Regions from separate parts of the Homo sapiens genome. Here region 2 is linked to region 1. A link means that fine-mapping ties the variant in region 1 to the expression of a gene that starts in the linked region. Tissue or cell type: nasal epithelium. Region 1 holds a variant in brackets; the other region holds the start of a gene. All regions are shown on one strand. Distances are from middle to middle. Region 1 overlaps CACNB4 (calcium voltage-gated channel auxiliary subunit beta 4). Region 2 holds the start of CACNB4 (calcium voltage-gated channel auxiliary subunit beta 4).

Region 1 (2,795 bases):
GAAAAATGAAATAATATATGTAGATATTGGATGCAAATTATTCTATTTAAAAGCACATCTCACTGTAGCTCTTCTTTTCAAGCAGGGTGGTGGCCATAATATGTATCGGTATTTGCCTTCCACTTTCAGAGACTGGTGGGAAGTCTGACATTTTAAAGCCTCTGCCTGTTTCTCTGTTTGTTGGGGGAACATCCTAGAGTGATGATGGTAATACTGGTGATGGCAGTGAGGGTGGTTGTGGTGATCACGGTGATATTAGTGGTTATGATGGTGCTGTTGATGGTCCTGGGTGTCAGGGCAGGGGTGGTGATGATGAAGATGGGGCAATAGTGGTGACTGTAGGATGGTGATGGTGCTTGGTAAGGGTTGGGTGGAGGTGAAGGTGATGGTGATGATAGAGGTGGTAATGGTGAGGGGGTGATGGTGATGATAGAGGTGGTAATGGTGAGGGGGTGATGGTGATGATAGAGGTGGTAATGGTGAGGGGGTGATGGTGATGATAGAGGTGGTAATGGTGAGGGGGTGATGGTGATGGTGGAGAGGAGGGTGGGGACGGTAGTAGTGATTATGCTGTGGTGACAGTGGTGACGGTTGTGGTGGTGCTGCTGGTGGTGATGGTGGTGGCAGTAGCGGTAATGGTGGTGATGGCGGAGAGGAGGGTGGGGACAGTAGTAGTGATAGTAGTGATTATGCCACGATGGCTTGGTGATGGTTATGGTGGTGGTGCTGCTGGTGGTGATGATGGTGATGTTGGTGATGGCGGAGAGGAGGGTGGGAATGGTAGTAGTGATTATGCCATGATGGTAGTGGTGAGGGTGCTGGTGGCGGCGATGGTGGTAAAGCGGTGATGGTGGTGATGTTGGTAATGGTGATGGTGGTATTGGTATAAATGGGGGGGTGCTGATGGTAGCTGTGGTGGAGATGGCAACGATGGTGGTGGTGATGGTGGTAGTGTTGGTGGTTCTTACCCTGGGTTCCTCACCTCTGTTGCTCAGCCTGCCTGTTGGGATTCATAGCCTCCTGGAGTGATGACTGCATAACATTGTTTTCTTTTGTTTTGCCATTCCTCCCCTGCCTGCCTGCCTTATTCTGAACTCAGTCCCCTTCACATGGGCTTACCTAGGACTCTTCAGCTGATTCTCAGCCTTTGACCCTGGACAATAGCTTTGGATCCAGCACAGCATCCTATCCTGCCTGCCCCTATCCCCTGCCTCTTACAGTCCTGCCTCTTCTGGTCCTACATCACTGCTTTTCACCTAGAAGCTAGGGACATTTCCTCATTAGATGAGGCCGTTGCATTGTTGTCAAATAAGAGCGTTTAATGCTAGAGGATTGCATTTGTTATTGAAGGGAATGCTCCAAGTTCTGAGAGCCCTGCTCTTGGAGAACACAGCTGGCAGTGGAGAATGGACTTTCTTTTAAGAGTGAAAGCAGATTGACAAATCTGCCCACCATTATCTCTTTTGTTCCATTTTTAAAATGTATTTTTAATTATTTTTGTAGATTGTTTTCATTATCCTGCACTGTTTTCCA[A/G]TCCCTTAACATTACTTAACCTGTTTATTTAAATACTTAGCAATCTCTGCTTGTTCCAATTCATAATCATCCCATTCTTATGCTAACTTATGCCAGCCTTGGGGATGGCACTAGAATCTGGGGGTGGTGGCTAAATTCTCATGTAAACATAGCAAAGCACGATTGCCAGTTTACTACACAGGCGAATGGCATTGAGCTAAAGCATTCACTTCAAAGAGGAGGATGCTTCTAGGTATATTGAATTTGGCATGGGGTGATGGGTGAGGGTTGGAGAGGGAGATGTGTTTGGACCTTGGATGACAAGGAAGATGGTCTTTCCTTCTCGACTGGCTCCCTTCAATAAGGAAATCATTATGCTGGATTTGAGATGTTTCAGTTTGCTGATAGCTGACTTCCGTCTGCTCTCCTGGACCTTATTCTCTCTGCCAACTGCACAAGTAAATCTATATAGATTTCTTCCTGATGCCATTTGTGATATATTGCTCCCTGAAAGCATTTTCCTGATATTTTATGAAAATCCTTGAATTGGCCCTAAATTCTGGTAGTAGAAAGAGCATGATATTTTCAGCAAAAGCGTAAGTTCAAGGTCTAGCTTAACCATATACTAGACCAAGCCACTGAACTTGAATTTTAGTTTCCAACCCTATAAAACAGAGGTAATTGGCCAGGCATGGTGGCTCACGCCTGTAATCCCAGCACTTTGGGAGGCCGAGGCGGGCGGATCCTGAGGTCAGGAGATCGAGACCATCCTGGCTAACACGGTGAAACCCCATCTCTACTAAAAATACAAAAAAAAAAAAAAATCAGCTGGGCCTGGTGGTGGGCGCCTGTAGTCCCAGCTACTTGGGAGACTGAGACAGGAGAATGGTGTGAAACCGGGAGGCGGAGCTTGCAGTGAGCCGAGACCATGCCACTGCACTCCAACCTGGACGACAGAACAAGACTCTGGCTCAAAAAAAAAAAGAAAAGAAAAAGAAATGGAGGTAATCAACTTCTGTGCCTCATCATAAGGTTTTCATAAGCCTTGTTTGAGATATTACCAGTGAAAAAGGTTTATAATGTTAAAAGATTACTATAACTGTTACTAAATTTGACTTACGATATTATCTTGAGGCATGAATGCTCTTTAACTAGGAATTTTGTTGTTTAGGAAAAGTAAGTATTACAGATCTTTGTGAAAATAATTATACTCTTAAATTGCTTTTCATACACACATTTCCTTAAAATTTAATATTCATTAAGCTCCCCTAGCCACGTTGGAT
Region 2 (2,795 bases), 25 kb before region 1:
AGACCTGCCTGCTTGCTGGAAGGTTTGTATAGAGAGATCAAGATGGAGAAATGAGATGGAGAGTGATCAGAAATGCAGGAGAGGCTGAGTTGTTGGACCATGGAGTTTGGACTTTATCTTAGAGAAGAGTGACTTGGGCAAGATATTTTAGGAAAATGGTTTTGCCTGTAGTGTGTAGATGGAATGAAATCTCTGCGTGTGTATGTGTGCATGTGCATACGTGCACATGCACCAGGAAGCCTGGAGGCAAGGACATTAGTTATAAGATTGTTACAGAGGTTTGGATTAAGTGAAGGGATTAGGAATGGAAAGGAAGTGTCTGGTGGATGGTAAGATATAACCAGGACCTCAATAAAGCCAAGCAATTATTAAAACAAGCATGGTAGTTGTGTCCATAAACATAAAGTCCTAGAATGCAAGCTGATTTAGCGATTTGAGATAGTAAGTATATTTTAATTTAAACGGAGTCTCTTTATTTTTGAATTTGCATATACTTTTCTTCCCTCTTCTTATTCCTCTGTCAATACCTCGCACTTATTCTTCCTTTCCGCAATCCCTCTCTTTTAATTTGATCACAAATTAATCTCTTGTATGTATTTACAGGAGGAAACCAATGGCAAACGTTGTGTATGGTTGCAAGGATGAGTTTCTCCCCCTTGAAAATATCCATTCGCATAGAAATGGGAGGCACAGTGACCAACTCTTGCTTCTTAGCAGGTCTAACATGACCTTCAAAACTCCGTAGGACATACTGGTCTTTGGCGGGGCAGCATCTCCCGTCAGACTCAGGCTGGCTGGGTTTCTCACAGCTGCCTGGATGTGTGTGACTCGCAGCTCTAAGGACAGAATTGCCAAAGCAATACAAAAACACGGACGAAAAGCAAGCCACAAAACCCCATGCCTTACACATTAGGCTGATGAGTGAAGTCGCGGAAGGTGGCTCTGCTCTTGCCCTTTTAAAATTCCAGTGCAGCAAACACACACACACACACCCGCTCGGTTCTTCCCATTCCCGCCACACTGCACCAGCTTCCGTCCCCAAGTCCTGATTCATGAACCGTGCCACCTTTGTCTCATTTTAAACTGTGCAGACTATTTTAATCTTGCCACCCCCATCCCAGATTTCCCCCTCCCTTCATCCTCTGGAAGCTCTGATGTAAAGCGCTTGCTAGGTGGGAGAGCGCTTCTCCCAATCCGCTCGGGTAGGCGAGTTTCCGAGAAGCCCCCTCCCCGGGACCCCGCCGCGAGCGCGGGGGAAGCGCCTCGGTCCCTTTAAGGTGCCGCGCTCTCCGAAGTGCGGGCAGGGAGCCTGGGCGCCGGCGCGGGTCCTGGAGCCGGGTGGGGAAGTCCTGCGCCCTCCCCCTCCGTCCGCAGCCCAGCCTCGGGGGCCAGCCCCCTCCGCCCACCGCACACGGGCTGGCCATGCGGCGGCTCTGAACGATGTCCTCCTCCTCCTACGCCAAGAACGGGACCGCGGACGGGCCGCACTCCCCCACCTCGCAGGTACCGCCCCCTCCTCCCCCTTCTCCTCTTCCTCCTCTTCCTTCCTCACACCTCCTCCGCCGCCCTAGCGCGCCCCGCCTTCGTGCCGGGCGTGCGGGGCCCCAGTCCCGGGAGTCGGCGGCCCCGCTCCCCCCACCCCTCCTCCACGTCCCTTTCTCCTCCCGCTCCTCCTCTTTCTCCTCCTTCTCTTCCTCCTCCTCCTCACCCTCCTTCGGGTCTCTGCGCTCCCGCTCCGGAGCCCGCAGCCTCCCCCAGCGGATGCCGGGGACTCGGACCCCGCACCCTGAGAGTCTTTGTTAATGGATGTGGTGGGTGCTTGCGGGCTGCTCTTCTCGAGCATCTTTTCAGCAGTCGAGGCTTGCAGTGGGTGGGTGGGGGTGGGGGCTGTATTTGGGAGTCGCGGAGGAGACTTGGGTGCGGGCTCTAGGGGACCCCAGGGAGCGGGTCCGGAGGCGGACTCCAGCCGGGGGTGGTCGCCCCGCTCTGCGCTGCGGTCCTCACCGGCTTCTCTCTGGCCCCCGTGTGTCGAGTCCAGGTGGCCCGAGGCACCACAACCCGGAGGAGCAGGTTGAAAAGATCCGATGGCAGCACCACTTCGACCAGCTTCATCCTCAGACAGGTATGAGAAGGAGGCGGGAGACCAGGATGGGGAGGAGGCCGAGCGCGCGGCGCGGGGGTCCTGGAGCCGGCCGTGGCCCACACGTGCGGGAGCTGCGGGTCAAGCCCGCGCGCGTCTCTTCCCGGCCTCGGCCGGTGCTCGGGCTCAGTCCCTCTCCCTCTAGCCTGGGCTCTTGACGTCTTCGCGTCCCGGCGTCTCCGCACCGCCCCGGGAAGTTAGTTTGTGCATGTGTGTGGACAGTTCGGTGGGGACCTGGCTTAAGTCAGGGACGTTGAATTTAAGAGCTGGAAATATGTCTGGTTGTATCTTTGGTGCGTGGAGAAATGTCTTTAATTCGTATAACTCGACCTAGAGTAACCAGACCCCTCGGGGCCGGGGACCTGGTTTGATTCGAGTTGAGATTTAGTGGTTTCTTCTGTTTTGTCCTAATTTGAATACTCTTATCTGTCTGGATCTTGGGAGAGATCGTCAAGCTCCGGTCAAAAGAAAGACACTGAGCAGAAAGTTTACTCTCACTTTAGGACCGCTTCTTGGATTCGCTTAGTTAGGGAAAGACAGCTGTATCTGGTTAAATAGGAATTAACGAAGGCCAGCACTCAGCTCCGGGTCTGGGTGCGCCTTCACTTCGTGTTTGTTTTCTTAGTGCTTGCTTTCTCCTGCGTGGTTCTAGTGC

What was found. PIP is the estimated chance that this variant, and not a neighbour inherited with it, causes the effect.
Region 2: it holds the start of CACNB4, and the variant in region 1 is fine-mapped to the expression of CACNB4 in nasal epithelium (TOPMed, PIP 0.94).

The regions. Positions count from the first base shown.
Region 1 is chr2:152,072,349-152,075,143 of GRCh38, reverse strand. All of the region lies in intron 2 of CACNB4 (calcium voltage-gated channel auxiliary subunit beta 4), which reads left to right. Among named protein-coding and RNA genes, the nearest start is that of CACNB4, 25 kb to the left of the region's middle. The variant A/G (reference allele first, on the strand shown) is at 1,534.
Region 2 is chr2:152,097,657-152,100,451 of GRCh38, reverse strand. CACNB4 (calcium voltage-gated channel auxiliary subunit beta 4) reads left to right here and starts at 1,408. Exons shown (of 14, transcript NM_000726.5): 1 at 1,408-1,503; 2 at 2,039-2,122. The coding sequence starts at 1,441. RefSeq lists a silencer at 1,210-1,499.